Regions from separate parts of the Homo sapiens genome. Here region 2 is linked to region 1. Evidence: fine-mapped QTL for protein levels in blood plasma. A gene starts in region 1. The other region holds a variant in brackets. All regions are shown on one strand. Distances are from middle to middle.

The links. A credible set is the group of variants that fine-mapping cannot tell apart. PIP is the chance, under the fine-mapping model, that this variant and not a neighbour inherited with it causes the effect. Protein levels are from antibody-based Olink assays in UK Biobank. Linkage for the fine-mapping came from a reference panel and not from the study's own genotypes, which makes the PIPs less certain.
Region 2: its variant is the best candidate, but not a certain one, in a credible set for the plasma level of the FSHB protein (UK Biobank, PIP 0.55).

The regions. Positions count from the first base shown.
Region 1 is chr11:30,224,972-30,236,308 of GRCh38, reverse strand. FSHB (follicle stimulating hormone subunit beta) reads right to left here and starts at 5,295. Exons shown (of 3, transcript NM_001382289.1): 1 at 5,261-5,295; 2 at 4,248-4,443; 3 at 1,115-2,739. The coding sequence starts at 4,406. The coding sequence ends at 2,509. The region is part of intron 1 of ARL14EP-DT (ARL14EP divergent transcript); the gene reads left to right.
Region 2 is chr11:30,198,964-30,210,300 of GRCh38, reverse strand. The region is part of intron 1 of ARL14EP-DT (ARL14EP divergent transcript); the gene reads left to right. Among named protein-coding and RNA genes, the nearest start is that of FSHB, 26 kb to the left of the region's middle. RefSeq lists an enhancer at 3,443-3,522. The variant C/T (reference allele first, on the strand shown) is at 5,320.

The DNA.
Region 1 (11,337 bases):
TTACTGCATTGTCTCTCTCAAGGGACAACCATCAACTAATATTTATTGAGGAATTACTATGTGCCAAGTACTGCTCTAAGCCCTTTTATCTGTTATTTCATTAATCATGAACACAACTCTCTAAAGCAGGAAATATTATTATCCCCATTATACAGTTGAGGAAACTGAGGTCCAGAGAATTTAAGTAACTTGTTCGAGATGACACATCTGCTTAAGATGATTGAGACAACATAAATCTGAAGCCATTGTCCTTTACTCTCCCTAATGTAAAGGTTTATTATTTTGGTCTGCAAAACTACAGGAAGAAGGAAAAGGCTATAATTTAAAGCATCTTATTCAACATTGTTAATATAGCCCTAATTTCAATGCATTGCTATAAGCCACACCCAATACCAGATTAGAAGGGACAGAGATGATTATTATAATAATATCTGTAGTTTTGCTTCAATCTTTACCAAAATGACTTCTTATTATGGTGGAGTAGTCAAAGGAGAGCCGGATTAAGAGCAAGGAGGCTAGGATTCTAATCCTGGCTCTGCCACAAACAGTCTTTGTGATTGCTGTGGTCTGAACGTTTATGTTGCTCCAAGATTCATGTTGAACCCTGATCTTTATTGTGGTGGTATTAAGAAGTTGGGCCTTAGGAGGTGATTAGATCATGAAAATGGACCTCTTATGTATGAGATTAGTGCTCTTATAAAAGAGACTTGAGGGAGCTTTCCGTTGTTTCCACTGTATGAGGATGCAGCAAAAAGTCACCAGCATTGAAGTAGGGAGCAGGCCCTCCCTCCCCAGACAAGAAATCCGCTGGCACCTTGATCTTGGACCTCCCAGCCTACAGACTGTGAGCAATAAATTTCTGTTGTTTATTAATTACCCAGTCTAAGGTATTCTGTCATAGCAGCCCAAAAGGACTAGGACAGTGATCTTGGGTGGGCCACTTAATATCACTGGGCTTTAATTTTTCCATCTCAAAAATTCAAGAAGTAAACTATAGAAACTCTAGTATCTCCACCCATTCTGTGATTCTCTCTATGCTTTTTTTCTCCCAAATTACATCAGAAAATGTCTTCAAAAAATGACAGGAAATTTAAGTGACAAAACACTTCAGAAATCCAACAAAATTATTTTTAATATCTCCAAAGATAAGGAAAGGTAATATTTATAGAAACACTGGGAATTATATTTTAAGATTTCATTCCACTAATATTATAAAATACAGAATATCTAAGTCATCTGTTTGTACATAAAACAATCCAAGCCTGTGACTCTGGTGGCTAGCATCTTTATTAAAAAAATAAGATTTAAATAAATTAGTTAAACAATATGAGTGTGAAACTGAGTGCATAACTAAGACAGTTAACACGTTTAAAAGAAATCAACTCATGAAATAGTTTTAATATATAACCTGTTGAAAGAAAGCACAGATTTGGGAGAACATGGATGGATAAAATAGAAGATTGATGTAGACAGGATCCTAGAAAACAGCAGTTTCCCCTCGTCCCCCATGGCTAATTCTTTCTAAAGGAGCTATTTATTTATACAAATATATTTGTAGACAAATTAATTATATTTATTAAATTGCTGAAACTGCTTTCAAACCTACTTTCAAATCCTTTGTCATTCCAAAGAAGTGGATCCTAGGGAGGGTAGGGTGAGATAGTTTGGTTTTTTCCCTTTATCTCAAAAAGGAGTTTTGCAGGAGCCTAGTAGCATGTGATCAATTTGTTTAAGTAATGAATAGAGGCAGGCTAATTTCCACAGCCCCAAATTACAATTTCTTGCCTTTGCCCTTAACTAACAGGCTTGGTAGTAATAGCTTGGAAATCTTGAGCTCTGTTACTCCCCATCTGTACCAAACAATTCAGAAAGATACATCATGTCTCAATACTCCATGTGCTGGAGAAAAGGCGAGGTGGAACTGATGCCACTAACTTTCATGGGACTGGTGTGGCTGCGGGCAGCCTCATCAGCTTACCTCAAACATCGTCTTCCAGTATTTTCTACCCTTGACCTTTCTGATCTAAAGAAGTCATTGTTGTGTTTCTAAGTTCCAGGCAGAGTGCTAGGCATTGACGCTACAATGCTGAAGATGCTGACCTTGCTCTAGAGGGCCCAAGAGTCTACCAGAAGACTGCTGCAGTTAGTTCTTTCACTCACTCCCATTACTGCTTCCTCCTTCTAGGCTTATGTTTCCCCCTAAGAGAGAGGCATTGCCTGAGAAGATTTCTAAGATTTTTAAAGAAGAAACCAGGCACAAGTCTGTGAGTTAAGACTGAATAAACCTTATGAAATCAGACCTAGGAATATAGAGCTGAATCATGATGGAGTCCTGGCCCCCAGCACTCTCAATTCCCAGAGTTCCCTCTGCCAGTAGACCAGGGATCAGTAGAGTCTGAATCCCCTGATCCAGTGGTTTGTCCCCTGGGCACATTGCACACACACAGACTTTTTGAATATCTTGGTCCTTCAGGACAAGGGTATGTGGCCTGAAATGTCCACTGATCTTTATTCTTTCATTTCACCAAAGGAGCAGTAGCTGGGCCCCAGGCCTCGCACAGTACAATCAGTGCTGTCGCTGTCACACTTGCCACAGTGACACTGGGTGGCCACTGGGTATGTATACAAGGAATCTGCATGGTGAGCACAGCCGGGCACTCTCACTGTTTCGTATACCAGTTCCTTGAAGGTACATGTTTTCTGGATTTTGGGCCTGGCTGGGTCCTTATACACCAGATCCTGAGGAGTTTAAGAAGAGAGTTAGGTTATGGTATTGTGGAAGTTCCTATTTAGCTTAGTCAAAATGAGACAGAAATTGAATACTGCTTGCTCTAACATTTACCCATTAAAACATGACCTCATAAATGACCTATATGCTATTTACATTTCTAAATTGTTCTTGAAATCTTCCAGAAAATACAAGTAATTTCTTTTCTTACTTCCTATGGCTATATCAAAATATTAACTATTTTTCAAAATATAAAGGAACTTTGAATTTTAGCATAGAAAAATGATGAAAAACATGACAGGATTTTAAGTTGACTTTTCATATTTAATTGAAAGCTGTATTAATAACAAACCATAAACAAAGATATCCAATGTCTCAGAAAAAATATTTTAAAATACACTGCCCTGAGTATTTATAAAAGGTCAAAAATATATAATTTTAAATTTTAATGCTTAAGTTAACATGTTTGCTAAGGCTAACATAAGATTTTAAATATTCCAACTCCTTGTGGACATTTTTCTCCCTTGAAAGCTGTATACTTTGCAGGGTTCCTAGTTTCAAAGGATATGCAGTTTGCATATAAGAATTTTTAATCCAGGTAGAAATTATTTGTAGTAGCACTTTCCAGTGGAAAAATTATTTATACTGCGTAGAGAAATTGGGGCTTCTGTTTATTTTAATATCATCCTACCAAATGTATATCCCAAGAAGGTGCAATAAATTGTGTAATAAATGGAGTTTGATCAAACTCATTTACCGTCAAATAAAGTATCGTTCATTTAAAAAGTTGCCATTTTCAATTTTAGTTTATAGAATGAAATTCTGCATAGATAATTAGGGGTGCTGCAGAGAAAAAAGAAAGCACCATGGAAACTATTTCTCTACTTGTATTAATGCAAGGAAACTGCAAACACAGACTAGCAACTGATGCCTCTATGTCTTGGTTTTCTCAATGCTATAACGAAGGGAGTGGGTTTGCTGATTCATTTTTGTTCTAACAGTCTGCAAGAATTGATTGTGTTCTCAGGCTGTTTTTTGGCATTTGTATTTAGTAGGGCCAGGAAGACAATTTTTTTAAGTGGCTGTCTATGTTTTTATGTGACTTGGAGACATATTTTGGTGTGATTTTGTGTCAAAGATGTAGTGTCAGTTAAAGAAATTGCCTTTATGAGAATATTATAGGTCCTTTATGATTAAATATATGTATGTTTCCATGTTTATCTCTCTATGTGTAAAAACGTAACATAGAAATACTTTTTCCCTGTAGATGCAAAGTTGGACTAGTACCAAATTGATCAGATTAAATCTGAGGCTTTCCTAAATTTACCCAAATCAAATCCAAGCCCAAACATCTAAGTGATATCGTGGTCATTAACCCCAATCACAACACAGACAGTCTTGGCTAAAGGACTCATGGCTGTTACTTAGAATACATAAAATATTGATAAAGTAGAAACTAATGAAACCGGCCTAATACAGACCTTCAACACCCTTGCTTCCAGCAAAACATGGTACCTACCCTGGTGTAGCAGTAGCCAGCACACCAAGTGGTGTTGATGCTTATGCAGAAACGACATTCTTCTTTCTCTATTGCAATGGTGATGTTGGTCAGCTCACAGCTATTGCAGCAGATTGCTTTCCAGCAACAGAAAAGGAAGAAAAACTGGAGTGTCTTCATCCTGGTCTGGGAAGCAAACAATGAAGCCCACTAGAAACTGAGAAACCAAAGAACGATAATCATTATGTAAGCTGACCAAACCAAAAATAATTGGTCTGCTCATCCTCCTCAATCACATTTTGCTTCAAAAGTTTTTTTTCCTTCCTTATGCCTTTTTACTTACATCTTTGTTTCTTGGAACAACATTTTTCCTTGTCCTTCTTCAATTTTTGGGTCAGGGTGGGAATATATTATAGATCAAAACTCCAATATAATGATTTAAGCAGAGGAATATTTAAAGATTAGAATCTTATTGCTGACTGTCATAAAGTAATTACTCTGATAATTGTGATCATCATATTTGTTCTTCCATTATTATTTTAAAGTCTATTTTTGTCTGAAAAGAAAAATAAAATTCTTTTCTTTTCTTGAGACAGGGTCTTGCTCTGTTGCCCAGGCTGGAGTGCAGTGGTATAATCATGAATCACTGCATCTTCAACCTTCCAGGCTCAAGCAATCCTCTGACCTTGGCCTCCCAAAGTGCTGGGATTACAAGCATGAGCCACCATTCCTGGCCAAGAAAATTCTATACTACAAAATTATGTCTTCATTTTTAGAATCTCATAAATATTTTCTTTTGCTCACATTTGTTTAAAATAAGACCATTTCAGAAGAGAGGCATATTGGTCTATAAAGTCAGTTACTTGCTAACAGTGATTACGTTATATTAACCATATTTTACAAGCCAGGTTGACAAGCATAAATTTCCTACACAACAGTAGTGAGAAGCTCTAGTTTTGTCCTCCATGTCCTGACAAATCTGTAATTTCAAAAGTAGCTGTCACCACTTGAAAACGGTAGATGCCAAGACTCACCTGTGGTCGGCTGCCTTGCCTGGCAAGAGCTGTAGACTGAATGAAATCTCAGTTCACCTTTTATACAAAATCATGTGCAACTAACACCTTGTGGATTTGTTGGGTATTAATATGACCAATGCTAGCCTGAAGCTTGCTGTAAGTGAATCAGTGTTTAGATAGACAGGGAGATCAAGCTTTACTAAAGTAGTCTAAACGCAGTAGATTAGAAAAAATAATGTTACTAGAGATGATGATTTTGTACAAATTAAATTTGATACAGTAGCACACCCACTCCTTTACCTTCTCAAATTAATTGTGACTCCAGATTTTTCTTTTGTATCTTTAAATCAGGAAATTCAGAGTCCTTTCCAAGTATTGCTTTGACTCTGTTCAGGAGATGCATTAAAAAATATGGTTAATAAATTGCTCCAAGAGCATATCAAAAGCTGTGAAGGAAGAAACAAACAAAGAGAAAACATTTCATGATCTGGCTCCTGTCTAAAGTGTGAACTGTATCTCTCTTTCCCTCCCACATTCTGGCCCCCTAATCACAAATCTTTATTTTTTGATGTTTTAGCAAGAACTTTCTACTTTACTTGTAATTCCATAAATATGTTGCTGATTCATATCTTTAGATCTTTGCATGTAATGTTCTTCCTGCCTGAAATGTCCTTGCTTCCTCCCTGCCTCCTCCAACACCACCCTGAACCCTGGCAAATTCCTCAACCTTCAACATCCAGGGGAGTTTCACCTGTCAAAGTTTAGGATGGGAGGTGAGGGAGAACCATAATCACTACCTTCTGTGTGTAACCATTTATAGGCTCTTGTTTCCTCCAATAAACTATGATCTCTTTGGAGACTAGGATTGCTTTGTTTAATAAATATTTACTAATCAAACAGTGTGACTGGAGCAAAAGGACAACAGCAGTAATATTAGAATATGATGTCAGAGAGATAACAGGAGTCAAATGTTGGAACTTGTAGACCAGTGTAAGGGCTCTGGTTTGTACTCTTTGTGTAATGGGACCCATTGAAGGATTTTAAGTAGAGGAGTGACGTGACATGATCTGATTGAGTTCTAAAAGGACTCCTCTGACTGCTGTGTTGCTAATATAGGGGAACCAAGAAACAGGAAGACCCGTTAGGATGCTATCAATAACCCAGGTGAGAAATGATGTTTGTTCAATAACCCAGGTGAGAAATGATGTTTGTTCAGACTAGTATGGTAGCTATTGGAGGTAATGAGACATGCTCTGACTCTGTATGCATTTTGAAAGTAGAACCAACAAAATTTTCTGATGGATAGATGTTGAGTGTGAGAGGAGGAAAAGGGTCAAGGATGGCTCTAAAGATTCTGGTTTGAGTAGCTGGAAGGATAAACTTGCTATCAGCTGAAAGGGGATGGCTGTAAATGTCGAAGTTTGGGAAAAGGAAATGGAGTTCAGTATGCACATGTTGAGCTTGAGTTGTTTGTACTACATCCAGGAGATAATGAAGTTTCTTTTTCCTCTTTCCAAAGGAGACTGAGGAGGGCCATTGAGGAAAGTAGGAATGGGGAGAATATGGTGTCCCAAAAGCCAAATAAAGAGAGCATCTCAGGGAGGAGCCAGTGACACCTGTGTCAGATACTGCTGACAGGTTAAGTAAGATGAGGATCAAGAACTTCACAATGCATATGCGATGTAAAGTTCGCTACTGTCCTTGGCTGTAAAAGTTACTTTGGAATGATGAAAACAAAAACCTGATTGGTATGTGTTTAAGTGATTTGGAGGAGATAAGTCATAGTGAATATAGACAATTTTTCCAAGAGCTTTTTTTTACAAAGATCAATAAAGAAATGGGTATTTGGTTAATGTGGATGTTGGGTAAAAATAACTTTCTTTTGTTTTATTTTTATTTTTTATTTTTGAGATGGAGTCTCACTCTGTCACCCAGGCTGGAGTGCAAGGGCACAATCTCGGCTCACTGCAACCTCTGCCTCCCGGGTTCAAGCCATTCTCTGGCCTCAGCCTCCCAAGTACCTGAGACTACAGGCATGTGCCACCATGCCTGGCTAATTTTTGTATTTTTAGTAGAGATGGGTTTCACCATGTTGGCCAGGCTGGTCTTGAACTCCTAACCTTAAGTCATCCAACCCTCCTTGGCCTCCCAAAGTGTTGGGATTACAGGCGTGAGCCACCGTGCCTGGCCGCAGACAATTTTCTTTTGATTTTTAACTTTAAGATGGGAGAAATAAACACGTTTGTATGGTGATAGGAATGATTGAGTAAAGTGGAAAAAGTTGGTATCAGAAGGAGAGAGAAGTTCTGAAGTGTACTTGAAGAGGTAAAAGGAAATGGGTTATAGAAGAGGAGTGGAAGCATTGTCTTTAGGCAGAACCATGGAGAGCTCATCCCGTATTAGGCAAGAAGGCAGAGCTTGATGGTGCAGATGCTAGCGAGTGGGCAAGTGTGATGGATGCAGACTCTGGTGGGTGAGGAGGGGTTGTGGGTGCAGATGCTGGTGGGTGGAGAGGTGGTGAGTGAAGATGCTGGTAGGTAGGGAAATGTGGTGGGTGCAGATGCTTGTGGATGGGGAGGAGTGATGGGTGCAGATGGTGATGGCTGGAAGGTGTGGTGAGTGTACATGGTGGTGGGTGGGCGGTGTGGTGGGTGCAGATGCTGGTAGGTTGGGAGGGGTGGTTGGTATAGATAATGGTGGGTGGGGAGGGGTGGTGGGTGCAGATGCTGGTGGGTAGAGGAAGGTGGTAGGTATAGATCTGTACCTACCACACTTTGCCTGTTAACAGCAGGGGTTCAGGCACGTGGGTTACCAAAAGTTGGATTCATCTAGGATTATGATTTTATAAAATATGTTTGACAAAGACAAAACTTAGCATAGCAGTACACATTGTAAGTACCAAATCAATATTTATGTAAATGAATATTGTGAGTATAGAAATATTTTGAAATCTGTCAGTAATTGGTAAGCAAGCATATTTCCAAGTTATAGAATGAATAAATTTTATATTATGTATATTAAATAAAAATACTAATGATTCTTGGAAAATTATAAATCTTTTCATTTTTTCCAAAGGAATGCTAACATTACTATATCTATTGCTAATACCTTGTATTATGAAAGAAAACAAAGTTTTTCATATTACCTATGTATAATCACAAGATTTATTTGTGTGAATGTAAATGAACCACTTTGTTTTAATGACTAATATGTACATAGTATTAGTTCCTTAAATTCATTTTTAAAATATTAATATTAATAGCTTCTTTTTCATTGAGTACCTCCTATGTCCCAGGTGAAACTGCCTTTGCAAAGGTTATGACAGTGAGATAAATCTAGCATGGCTGACTCCATCTTGCCTCTAGCCTCACAGGCTGGCTGTTCTCACTCATTCTTAGGTGTAGGCCAAGCTAACCATGGGAGGAATTTAGTTTATAGTTTAACGAAGCAAGGATAATAGTCCTATCCTAAAACTAACCCCCTCCTTGCTCAGGGACTGAAAATGGCCTTTCTAAACAAATGAAATGCTGTGAGATTAGGATTATGGGGGGACCTGAATTCTGATAAGATATAGGCATGGTTTTTATAATCCCTTACTAGTTCAGGAGTTATGTGTCCAGAGGTCACAAGATTTGTTACTTCCCCAATTGCTCCTATAGATAATATCATTATTGTGGAGCCTACAGTTGATCATTTGAGACATTTTTCAGGCTTTTGCATTCTGGCAACAAACTGACTCCACTTGGACGCATGCTTCATGACTCAACTGGTCGTGTGGCCTACACCCGGAAGCAGACTCAATGAAGGAGGACAGTTTTCCACAATCTTACTATTTCATTCCCCAACCAATCAGCAGCACCCATTCCCTAGTCCCCTGCCCACCAAATTATCCATAAAACCCTAGCCTCTGAGTTTTCAGGGAGACTGATTTGAATAATAACTCCAGTCCTCCCGTTTGACCTACATTAATTAGATTTGTTCTTTGCTGCAATTCCATGATTTCAGTGAATCAGTTTTGTCTGTGCAGTGAGCTAGAAGAGCACATTGGACAATTACACAGGCATTTAACTAAACATGTTAAATAGAAGTTCATATACAATATTTACAATAACACAATAACCTTTTTTTTTTTAGACAAGGTCTCACTGTGTCACCCAGGCTTGAGTACAGTGGTACAATCTTGGCTCACTGCAACCCTCTGCTTTCCAGACTCAAGTGATGCTCATGCCTCGGCCTCCCAGGTAGCTGGAATTCCAGGTGTGTGCCACCACACCCAGCAAAATTTTTTAAATTTCTTTTTGTAGAGACAGAGTTTCACCATGTTGGCCAGGCTAGTTTCCAACTCCTGGCCTCAAGTGATCCACTAGCCTCCGCCTCCCAAAGTGCTGCGATTACAGGCGTGAGCCACTGCACCCAGCCTACAATAACCTTTTAAAGAAGTTACTGTTCTTCTTTGAAAGATGAGAAAACTGAGGATAAATGCAACCTGTAAGTAGCAAAGCTGGGGTTCATATTCAGGTCAGTTTGACTCCAAAGCCAGGGGACTATTCATTGAGCCATGGTGACCTCAGTGGTCTACAGTTCTCATCAATCCCATTAATTGGAGAGACCCCAAGACAGAAATCATCCAAAGTTTGGGCCACTATTCTAAATGCCCATATTTATATTTCCACCTGCAGTTAGGTCAGAGATTCCCACAAACAGCTCTGAATTTGGCCTGTCAAGAGGCCCCCAGACCTTTCTCTCAATTCTAAGCCTCTTATGGCTAGCTCATCTCATTAGCATATTTGCTAGTTAATGCCATTACTCTCATTGAGGTTTTTGAAATATTTTATTGATAAAAATTTAGAGTTCTTTTTTATTCACCTTTGAATTCCCCAAAATAAATAGAATTTCTGTTACATAATAGTTACTGAAATACTTTTCTTGAACCAAATGAAAAAAGAAATCACTCATCATTTCTTTTATGTTGGGTTGGTCCATAGCCTGTTTGCTATCAAATGCATTCCTTGTTTTTGCTTGGTTTTGTGCTCTGTTTTGTGGGAGAAAGGACCTTGGCAGGCTGCTTTTCCCACTCTGCTGTATTAGCAGGTTTTTGCCTTTGTGAATGGAGATTGGAAAGTGAATGCAAGGAAGCAGTTGGAGTATTTCTCTCTACCTTTTACATTCTGCTTCCCTTCCTGGTAGTGACTGCATGATCTCCCTGGCTCCAGATCCCATTGGACAGCTCCTCCTGGTGGTCCCAGCTTTTGTGAGGAAACCCCAGCTGTGGTTTGAGCTTCTGCTAGGTGGTCTCACCTTCTGGCTTCTGGGAACCCCACCTATGTCCCTCCAATCCTGCACATAAATGGAGCTTGTCACTAATACTTATCTCTGATTGCCTCATATTCCCTGTCTGGCTTTTCAGCAATCTAATACTTGAGCAACCAAATCTCTGGATTAATGAATTCCCTGATTTTCCTCTATTTTGCATATCAGGTGTGATTTCTGTTTTCCTGACTAGAAACTGGCTGATACACCTTCCTTTATTTCTAGAAAATATTCCCTCTAGAAATAAAACTCTCTTGGGCTTTTTTCTTCTTTCTATATAAAAGCAACTCTTGGGCTTTAATACAGTGATATATCACTCAATATTTAACAAATGACCGAACATTATTTAGGGAAGTCCTATGTCAAATTCACCTATATTGGCTTAAAGCACCTCCCACCACCTCAAAGTCACATGTATTCTTTTTGCTTCTTCTTTGAAGGTAATAAGGTTCTAGTCCCTCTGCCTGATACATGTTTCTCCTCTTCTTTTCACCTAAGCTACTCCTACAAGTACTTCAAAACTCCATTTAAAGGTAGCTTCTAGGAGACATTCACTTACCCTGCCTTACACAGCCTCCAATGCCCAACTCTCAGTTCAGCACTTTCTGTCTTACGCTTCCTTAGTTCCCAGTTCCTACCTCAGTGGTAACACTCATCACATTCTACTTTAAATGCACAGCTGACTTCTTTTGTGAATTCTGGTAAACCAATGTCTTCAATTGCTGGAAGATCTCTTGAATTTCTGTGCATATACTCAACAGCCTATGTTGTTCTTTCATTTATGA
Region 2 (11,337 bases), 26 kb after region 1:
ATCAAGGGGAGGTGTCCTAACGGGCTCGAGAGGCAGTGAGATGTTGATGATGGTTTAGATAGATGAGGGTGGTGAGTAAGGGGGAAAAGGGCAAGGTATACCCGTGATTCAAACTCATTAACAGGACATTAGGACCAACATATAATATATGACGAGTGTTGGTCTTAAACTTAACAAACCTGTTTCATGAACTTCAAGGATGGGGAACAGTTTTGCCTTGTTATTTCTTGAACAGTCAGCAAGCATTTACTGAACTGATAAACCAGATCCATTCTAGGCACTGCTTATGACCATGAGAGTTAGACTTCACAAAGAAATATTCTTTAAAATGTAAACTGGCATTTGGAATCAGAAATTCAGGTAGCAACATCAGAGGCTGTCTTATTTCCTTTGTATACTTGGAGTTCTGAGGTTTAAGACTTTAAAACTGCAATTAAGACTTCTAGTTTTTCCTAGGAGATTTACCCCAGTGCAGGTGGCTGCCACCAGGTGAGAGATAGAACTAGATATTGCCATCAGCTGCTCAGCCTTCCTGCTCTCTGGCAGGTGCAGCTGAACACGCAGCCGCCACAACCTGGAGGCTCACTGTGCCTATCCATAAATGAAATGCGATGGACAGCAAAAATGAGCCCTATTACTAAATCACAGATTCCTACTGCTGAGAGCACAGTTGCAAAACAAGAAAATACCCAAGTGTTTAAATTATCTATTACCTATTTGAGATGATAATTCTGACTTTGTTCCCTGATAGCATTTTACTTTTATCCAAAGCCATTTTTCTGCAGAAACTTTCCCCACATTTGCACTGCCTATATTTTGTTAGTTTCCCTTCACTTGTATACCATTAATTTAGATAAAAGTCCTTATTAGACGAATTCACCTAGGTATACTTTTTTTTTTTTTTTTTTTTTTGAGATGGAGTCTCACTCTGTCACCCAGGCTGGAGTGCCGTGGTGCGATCTCGGCTCACTGCAACATCCGCTTCCCGGGTTCAAGTGATTCTCTTCCCTCAGCCTCCTGAGTAGCTGGAACTATAGGTGTGTGCCACCATGCCCAGCTAATTTTTTGTATTTTTAGTAGAGACGGGTTTTCACCTTGTTAGCCAGGATGGTCTCTATCTCCTGAGCCAGTATACTGTTTTTGAAGATTCTGTAAATCCATTTTGGAATAAAGTGGGGTGCAAATAATTAGTGGTGCTCTGTCTATGTCAAGCTCTGGCTCTTCCAGGTGTGGACTGACACCGAATGCATCTGAGAATTTCTGGCCCTTAGAAGAGGTACCAGGAAGAGCACACATAGCCAAGGCTGAGGGTGGAGCTTGGGTGATACTCTAGGATTCTGTAACTCCTCCCTCAGAAGAGCATGGTATATGCAGTACAGTGTTTAGGAAGCAGGAAGGGTCCTAGCGTCCGGGCCCTTCTGCCATCCTTGGGGTCTTAGAGAAACTACTGGAGAAGGAATAGAGAACAGGGCTTGTCAGAGGTGGGGGAGCTTTTGAGACAATCTGTTCTAGTAGAACCAATTCCTGCAAGTAGGCTTCTCCTTCTTGCTCAAGGCCTGTGGTTGACGTCTCAGTCAATCATGATGTCTCCACTTGCCTTTGTCCATTGAATCTCAACACTTCCTGAGAACCCTTCCAGGCCAACACACCAGACAATAACCCCTGTAGCCAAGATGGAGGGAGACGCATGCTCAGGTCTCCCTTTGGGAAAGGACTTGCTGCCTACCTGCCAAGAGTAGAGTTACTAGCAGCCTTCAGCTATTAGGTCCTTCAGGATCTGTCTCGGCTTTTGAGTTGAGGTTCTTCCATGGGCATCTCCTTTCCAATGCTTGAGCAGGGCTGTGGTGCAAGGACCCAGCCATTTCTCTCCAATGTGGGACACCTCTAAAGGACAATCTGTCCTCCAGAGCTCCCAGATAGGCAAGTAAAGATCACTCTCCCTGCCCATTCCTTCCTTTTCTTCATTTTCCTTTACAGGTATCACTCTCTAATAAATATTTTGCATCCCTATTTATCATGTCTGTACCCCTAAAACCCCAACTAGTTATAAGTACTAATCAGCTTAGCAAGAAAGACACACCAACATTTATGGAACATTTATGTGCTAGAAATTATTCTAAGTAATCAACATGTATTCTCTTTTTAAATCCTGGAACAATGATATGTGCTAAGTACTATTATTATTTATATTTTAATGATGAGGAGACAGGCACAGAAGACTTTAGTGACTTGTTCAAGGTCAAACAACTAGGTGGAATCAAGATTTGAGTGTCAACAATCTGACTCCAGGGCTCCTAATTGCTTTGCTGAGCTATCTTATTTGCCATTCCTAGGCTAGCTTAACCACTTTACTCATCTCTTGCTACTACTATTTAAGCAAGGAGATTTGCTCTTGGGGTAAACAGTTAGTATATATCTGGGAGAAGATGGGTCCTTTCATTCTTTTTCCGGTATTTCCAGCTCATGGTATGTTGCCTAGCACATAGCAGGAGCCCAATAAAGTTTTGATGATGGATGAAGACAGAAGAATTGAAAATCCTATCATCCTGACTGAGATAAAAGAACATGGTAGGAAAAATGATAGTTTACTGTGAATGATAGTTTACTATGATGGTGACTGCATATGGGGTAGGCGTGACAGGAAAAGAGACAATTTATAGACTGTAAAAACTCTTTGTGACTTATGATTTTAGATTCACTCTAATTTCAGCATAGCATCAGCCCTCATTATTCTGGCTGGTGTGCCAATGTAGGAGAAATTATAAAGCAGTTAATTCTAATTTGTCTGAAGCTTAAGATACAGTTGTATGAATCTATACTTTTCTTTAACCAAAACAGAACAGTATCCTTTAAAACTTAACTGAGATGTTGAAGGTTAACAGGTATCTCTGAGAAGAAAGTTGTCTTTGTGTTTTAAAACATGGTTGGTAGTCATTCAATTACCTTCTTCTCATCCTTATTCTGCAATCCATACTGGGTTGGTAACTCTGTAGGTACTGGTTTTATAATTAATATTATGTATTTAGTAGGCAATAAATTTTTATTGTATTTTAATAAATTAACCTTGCTAACTAATGTGGAAAACTATAATACCATAAGTGTAGGGAATAATAGAGTCGATACCTTAAAGATTATTAAAGGCAAAATGTTTTTATCTCAAAAAAGTAAATAAGTAAAATTCAAAAATGCCTAGAGATCAACCCTAGGTGGCCGCTTAGGGATGGAATTTCTGGGGTTCTGCTAATGAAATTAATTCATGATGTTTTCTCAGTTTGCATACTTATAAATCTATATGGTGTCACAGATGTGTCTTTGAAAGTGCAATCCCTTTTGAGACCTGTAATGACCGAGCAGGTATGAGTTTCGGCTGCTCTTCTGTGGCTTCCTTTTTTTAGTCTTCTCACGGCTGTCTTAACACATTTGCTGTTCTGTCTTCTGGGGCTATAAACACCCAGAGAGTAGAATCTATATATTATCGTTTCTCCAGCTGTTTCCTAATCGGCTTAAAATGATGCACTTCTGTAAACTTTTGTTGAGCAGTTGAAAAAGGACAGCCTGAGGTATCTGAGGGGATTCAGGTTTTGGGACTGAAATTCACTTTTGTGTTTCACTAGCTGTGTGACCACAGGCCACTCACTTCTCTGAGTCTCTGAAGCATTTTAGATTGATGAGAAATAATATTCTTTTGTTATAAGGTTATGTGAAGATAGATTCATAGGATATATGTATTATCTGGCTCATAATAGAGGCTTAATATTCATCCCTTGTGTCTGTGGTGGAAATATTGTCTTAAGGCTTTACTTTCATTGTGTTCTTAATAGTCAAAAAAGTGGTTTTCCCCTTTAAAGAACACACAGGAGATCCACTTCCTCTTTGGCTGCCTTGTTTTTCTTTCACTGATTTGTCAATTTCCATCACTGATAGTGAAGCTTTTTGTGCTAAGGCTCTTCTCTTTATAGTACAGATAATAGGAAATGCTGCAACCAAATCCAAAGGGACCAGAACCAAAAAGGAGACTTTCTAATTTGAGATTTGACACCCATTTCAGCTGAGAATAAGGTTTGGTAAATATTTAAAATGGATTACATTTCTTGAAAGGACTTCTGCTGAATTTTATAAAGGAAAGATCAAAGCCTTCAGGTTTAAGTTTGATTCTACATATTTTCTACTTATGGTGAAATCCTCTGAGCCTTTTTCTCCTATAGAAAAGTTTTAATAAATCCTTGCTGAACCATTTCCACTAGAGAATTTGTCTCTATTACATTGAGGAGACTGGATATTTTAATTCTCACAGTTGATTGAATTCCAGTTCCGGAGCATCTAAATACTCTATCTTCTAGAATATCATCAATTAGTTAATTATATTTCATGATCCTAGTTTATATAAAATTCATACAAGGAAGACATTTGACTAATTTATCCTTAATACCCTTATAACATTGTTCTAAGAGTACAAATATAGCCTAGAATGTAGTAATGATGATAATAATAACAGCAACATTGGCCAGGTGCAGTGGCTCATGCCTGTAATCCCAGCACTTTGGGAGGCTGAGAGGTGGGAGGATTGCTTGAGCCCACGAGTTTGAGACCAGCCTAGACAATATAGTCAAGCCTCTTCTTTACAAAAAATATAAAAATTAGCCAGGCATGGCTGCATGCACCTGTGGTCCCAGCTACTTGTGAGACTGAGGTGGGAGGATCACTTGAGCCCAGGAGTTTGAGGCTACAGCGAGCTGTGATCATGCCACTGCACTCCAGCTTGGGTGACAGAGGAGACCCTGTCTCTGAAAAATAAATAAACTTTCTTTGTATCTAAGGTTTTTGTAAGAAAATGGTGACAATAACTGTAGCCAAACTATCTCAAAGCATTGTCACCTGTGTCAATGGACACAGAAAGGTTTTGAACAATATCATACAGAACATATTACAGTAGTGAATGCCTTAACACCCTTTCTTCACGATAGAATTCCAATTTGATTTTGATAAAGGCCTTGAAGGAAGCAGTACCCTATGTTATTTCTACACATAATCACCCTAAAACATTGTAGAAAAAAATTTGTACACAAGCCAACAACCTGATACACACATCATCCTCAATATTCAGAGATTAACATGTTAAGAAGAATGTTAACACTTTCAAAAGATTAAAATATTAATAATGTAATTATTGCCTGTGAATGTATTTGGGAAACATAGCATCAAAATCAAACAAATCATTCTTAAATCTTCAAAACCCAGTGTGTGGCAGGTCTAATCCTCCTGCTAAATGGTTAGATTGAACACAAATAGGGAGTGAGAATGGTTACATTTCTATTGACC[C/T]TGAAATAAATATCAAAGAGCAGAGTGCTATTAAATTCTAGACATAATAATCCACTGTACAAAACTACCTGAATCCTGAGTAACTGTTTCTCCTTGTAATAAGCAACCACCATTAAAGGGGATACGACACGTCTGACAGATGTGAAAGCCACTAAGTCATCAAAGAAAACTTATCCCTTCCCCCAAACAGGTGAGTCAATAGCATCGACATTTTCAAATGTCAGCTGCTGGATTATTATTTAATTCTGTTTGGAGCAAAACAGCATTAGTTCATTGATTCAAAAAGCCATTTTTTGAGCACCTGCTAGGTACCAGGAACCATGGCAGGCTTCAAGAGGTGCCAACGATAAATAGCAGACAAGATTTTCCCTAAAGAGTCCACAGCCCAGTGCAGCAGATAGACATATGCAGAAATCAACTTGGTATAGAAAAATTGCTAAGGGTTTTGGTGTCCTTGAAGGGTGTGCAGGATGAATGGGAAGGGCATTCCTGTGTGAGGGGGTAACATGCACAAAAGGAAGAGACCACAGAGCTTTGGGTCAGAGCTAGGGAACAATGCTGTGTCACTAATGCTGAAGGATGCTGAAGGGTACTAAAGGTACATAAAGTTTAAAAGGGAATTAGAATCATACTCTGGAGGGCCTTGGATGATAGGCTGAGCTTACATTTTGTTTTATTGCCAGTGGAAGCCATGGTGGGAGGTTTGAGCTGAGGTTGGAAGTTTCATCCAAGAGGGGCCTTAGATGGGTTGTTTGTAGGGTACATTTTCAGGACCTGCAGTTTGACACTGTTGACCACCCTTCTTGAAACTTGCATGTCCTTATTCTCTTCTAGTCTTCCTCCTGCTGCTTGGCCCACAGCTTGTCTATCTCTTTCTCAGGCTTTTTCCTTCTGCTTCCTTCTGTCATTGACTTTTCTCATGCTATGAGCTCTCCTAGGGTGAGCTCATTCATATTTATAGATGAAAGACTCTAACGCATTTACCTCCCAGCAAGTGTACTAAACTGAACTGCAGAGTCATGTTTCTGATAACCTTTAAAAATCTTCCTCCACCTGCCCAGCATGGGTAGACTTTGTTATGGGCTGAACTGTGTCCACCCTACCCCCCATATTTGTATGTTGAAGTCCTAATCTCTATTACCTCTGAATGTGACTATATTTGGAAATAGGTTCTTTAAAGAGGTAATTAAGTTAAACTAAGGTCGTTAGCTGGCCCTAATCAAATATGACTGGTGCTCTTAGAAGAAGAAGAGATTAGGACACAGACACACAAATAGGAAAGATCATGTAAAGACACAGGGAGAAGGTGGCCATCTACAAGCCAAGGAGAGAGGCCTCAGAAGATTCCTTTGTTCTTGCACTTCTAGCCTTTAGAATTGTGAGAAAAATAATTTCTGTGGTTTAAGCCACTCAATATGTGGTACTTTGTTACGGCAGCCCTAGCAAACCAATGTGGACATCTTACACTTAACATATTTAAAATTAAGCCGTGGCCAGGCACGGTGGCTCACACCTGTAATCCCAGTAGTTTGGGAGGCCAAGGTGGGAAGATCACTAGGTTGAGAGATTGAGCATCCTGACCAACATGGTGAAATCCCGTCTCTACTAAAAATACAAAAATTAGCTGGGCGTGGTGGTGCGTGCCTGTAGTCCCAGTTACTTGGGAGGCTGAGGCAGAGGAATCACTTGAACCCGGGAAGTGGAGGTAGCAGTGAGCTGAGATCATGTCACTGCACTCCAGCCTGGTGAAAGAGCAAGACTCCATCTCAAAAATAAATAAATAAATAAATAAATAAATAAATAAATAAATAAATATGAAGCCCTACCATCACCTCCCTCCCAGGCCGTGAAAATCAGGCACTCATAGGGATGAAGTCCAAAGTTCGAGTCTAAGGGCCAGTAAGTAGAACTCTCTCTAAGGCATTTGTCAAGACAGCCAGATGGAAGAGGGTATTATGATTTCCTGGACATTGTACTGATTTGGAAATCAGAAATAACGTCTGGTCAATTAAAAAAAAGTAAGAATATATAAATAATCATCTAGAGAAGATAATAAAGTCACCTGAAATCTCATCACATTCATATAAATATTTCCCAACCTTCTGCCATGTAAAGAATATGCATTTTTTTTTCTGGGAAACATGATAAGTTACTATCATACTATTCTTTAACCTTCTCATATGTCAGACTTGTAAGTCTGTACAAGAAATCTAAGATTTGTTTCCAAGCCAGCGTCATCTCTTGCTTGAATTACTACTATAGCCTATTATCATGTACCTGTTTTTTCTTGCTTTTCCTGAATTGCCCATTGAGCAGAGTGCTATTAAAAAATGATTATAACATATTAATGTAAAATATGTTCTTGTTCCCTTCCTTACAACCCCTTCCCTCAGCCCTCCATCCATTGGCAGCCCATTGCATTTCAAATAAAATCTACATGTCTTGCCATGACCACAAAGCCCTCACAACTGTCTTTCTAATCGCATCTCTCATCACCTTACTTGCTATGCCTTGGGCTAGTTATTGGTTCTTGCAGTATTAAAAGGTCTCCAGGCCTTTGCATTTTCTGATTGTTTTTTGTGGAGTACTATTCTTATTTTTTGAATGACTTGATTTATTGTTCACATCTCAGAACAAATGCTACCTCCTCAGTGATGTTTGTCTTTCGGTCCACCTCATAGAAAACATCTTCTGGGTCACTTTTATCACATTCCTTTGTTTTATTCCTTCAGACTATTTAACATTTACTGAAGTGAATTTGTTTTATTTCTGTCTGCCTTGCCTAGAATGTAATCTCCATGAGGGTAGTGACTTTGCAGGTATTTAGCTTCTAGAAGAGTGCCTAGCTCATAGCCAGCACCAACACACACATACTTAATGCATAAATACAACCTCCTTTTTATTGTGGAGTTTAGATTATCTTCTTATTTGTAATATTTCCCAATAAGGAGATACCTTAAGTATGTAGAAAAGAGTGTACTATAAAAAAACCCTTTATACCCATCAACTAGTTTTATATTTCTTAATATTGTGCCAGTTTTGTTTTTTATACAGGTGTTTTATTTTTCTGAAAGATGAAACATTACAGTTTTACTTGACAGTCTCTATGGAGTTCTTTTGATCCCATTCTTTTTCCTTCCCTCTTGGAAGTGATCATAATCCTGAAATAACTCTTTGATATCAGGTATATTAGTCAGGGTTCTCCAGAGAAACAGAACTGGTAGGATAGATCTAGATATCTAGATATAGATATATAAAAGAGGATTTATCATGAGAATGGGCTCCTAGGATTATAGAAGCTAAGAAGTCTCACAATATGCCATCTGTAAGCTGGAGAACCTGGAAGGTCAGTGGTATTCAACCTGAGTTCAAAGGGCTTGAGAACCAGGGGGCTTGTGGTGTAAGTTCTGGAATGTGAAGCGTAAGAACCAGGAGTTCTGATATCCGAAGGCAGAAGGTGGATGTCCCAGCTCAAGAGAAGAGAGTACATTTGCCCTTTCTTGACGTTTGTTTCATTCAAGCCCTCAAAGAATTGGATGATGCCTGACTATATCAGTGAGGGAGGATCTTTACTCGGTTTATGGACTCAAATGCTAATCTCTTCTGAAAAGACCTTGACAGACATGCCCGAAATAATGTTTTACCAGCTATCTGGGCATCCCTTAACCCAGTCAAGTGGAGACATAAAATTAGCCATCACACCACGGAAAAGGAATGATTAGTTTTTATAACTAAGAATATAAATTGCCTTCAATTTCTGTAGAGTTTGCAATTATGCAAAGCTTAACTATTTTTGGCAGAAGGGGAATCATACCCTGATTCAAGAGTTCCAGTGGTAAGTGGACAAAAAGCATACACCACTTTCCATGCTTTCCTTTGTCAGTCCTCAGAACTGGCCTCAATCAGTGGCCACAGTAATAGCAGCTTGGCTGCCCTCCTTCAGATGCTCTCTGAGAGAGATTTGTGAAGTTCTAAACTACTAGCATCCAGCTAGCACTGATTATCCACTTACTCTTGCAACCAGAAGAAAGCAGAAGAAGAAAGCAGGAGATTCTGGACTTAGACTTTTGCCCACTAGGTGGGTTTGGGCACATCACTTAACCTCTCTTGGCCTAGGAGATAGTCTCCTTATCTCATAAACGGTAATGGTAACTTTCATCCTTTATATCTATTTTAAGTACTAATTCTTATGCATGATTTATTCATGTACCCTAGCCTCTTCCCTTTACATGTAGTATGCCTCTGTTTGGATGCAACTGGTTTTAAGTGCCCTATTTAGATTTGTAGAGCTTGCAGAAATGAATAATTGTCCCAACACCCTTGTGACTTGTAGGTTGCTCAGAGTCAGGCAGATATTAGACCATGTCTTTGCCAAAGATTATTTACCTCCTTATCTCCCCGTGTCCTTGCTAGTTTGTTTCAGGGCAGCAATATACGCAGCTCCAAGCAATTATTTATGATTGGGCTGATCTAGTCTTGATAATGCTATTACTGTTTACTAGACTTTCTACCTTCCCTTGCAGCTAGGTATAGCTGTATAACCCAGTTTCCAGTAAGACATAAAGTCAGATTGGCAAAAGAGATGGAGAGTCTTCGGGGAATGGGGAACCTGAGTCGTTCGTAACATCATTGAGTAGCTGAACTACCATGCCACTAACTCCAAGCTTCTCGTTATTGAAAATCATAAGTCCATAGTTATTGAGGTCACTAGTTTTTTGTGTTTATTTGTTTTTTTGACACTTGCAGCTAAAAGCATTTCTACCTAAAATCAGTTTTCTACTGATGCTGTAACAAAATATCATAAACTTAGTGTCTTAAACAACTCAAACTTACTACCTTACAGTTCCAGAAGTGCAAAATGGTGTCAGTGGGCTAAATTCAATGTGTTGGCAGGGCGATGTTACTTTCTGGAGGTTCTAGAAGAATGTTTTCATGCTTTTTCCTGCTTTCAGAGGTCACCCACATTCCTTGACTTGTGGCCCCCTTCCTCCATCTTCAAAGCCAGCAACATCGATCTCTCTGTGCCTCTCTTCTGTGGCCACATCTTCCTTTGATTGCTTCTATTTGGCCTTGTTCATCTACTTTTAAGAATTACTGCATGATTTATAGTCCTTTGGGTATATACCCAGTAATGGGATGGCTGGGTCAAATGGTATTTCTAGTTCTAGATCCCTGAGGAATCGCCACACTAACTTCCACAATGGTTGAACTAGTTTACAGTCCCACCAACAGTGTAAAAGTGTTCCTATTTCTCCACATCCTCTCCAACACCTGTTGTTTCCTGACTTTTTAATGATTGCCATTCATGCTGCTATAAAGACACATGCACACGTATGTTTATTGAGGCATTATTCACAATAGCAAAGACTTGGAACCAACCCAAATGTCCAACAATGATAGACTGGATTAAGAAAATATGGCACATATACACCATGGAATACTATGCAGCCATAAAAAATGATGAGTTCATGTCCTTTGTAGGGACATGGATGAAGCTGGAAATCATCATACTTAGTAAACTATCACAAGAACAAAAAACCAAACACCGCATATTCTTACTCATAGGTGGGAATTGAACAATGAGATCACATGGACACAGGAAGGGGAATATCACACTCTGGGGACTGTTGTGGGGTGGGGGGAGGGGGGAGGGATAGCACTGGGAGATATACCTAATGCTAGATGACGAGTTAATGGGTGCAGCACACCAGCATGGCACATGTATACATATGTAACTAACCTGCACAATGTGCACATGTACCCTAAAACTTAAAGTATAATAATAATAATAAAAAAGAATTACTGCAATTACATTTGACCCACCTAGATAATTCAGGATAATCTCCTCTATTTCAAGGCCATCTGATTAACAATGTTAATTCCGATGGCAACCTTAACTCCCCTTTGCTGTGTAACCTAACATAATCACAGGTTCCAAAGATCAAGATGTGGACATCTTAGAGGTGGAGGAGAGGGCATTTTTCTACCTAGCACAGTGCCCAATGTTTTACTCTATTA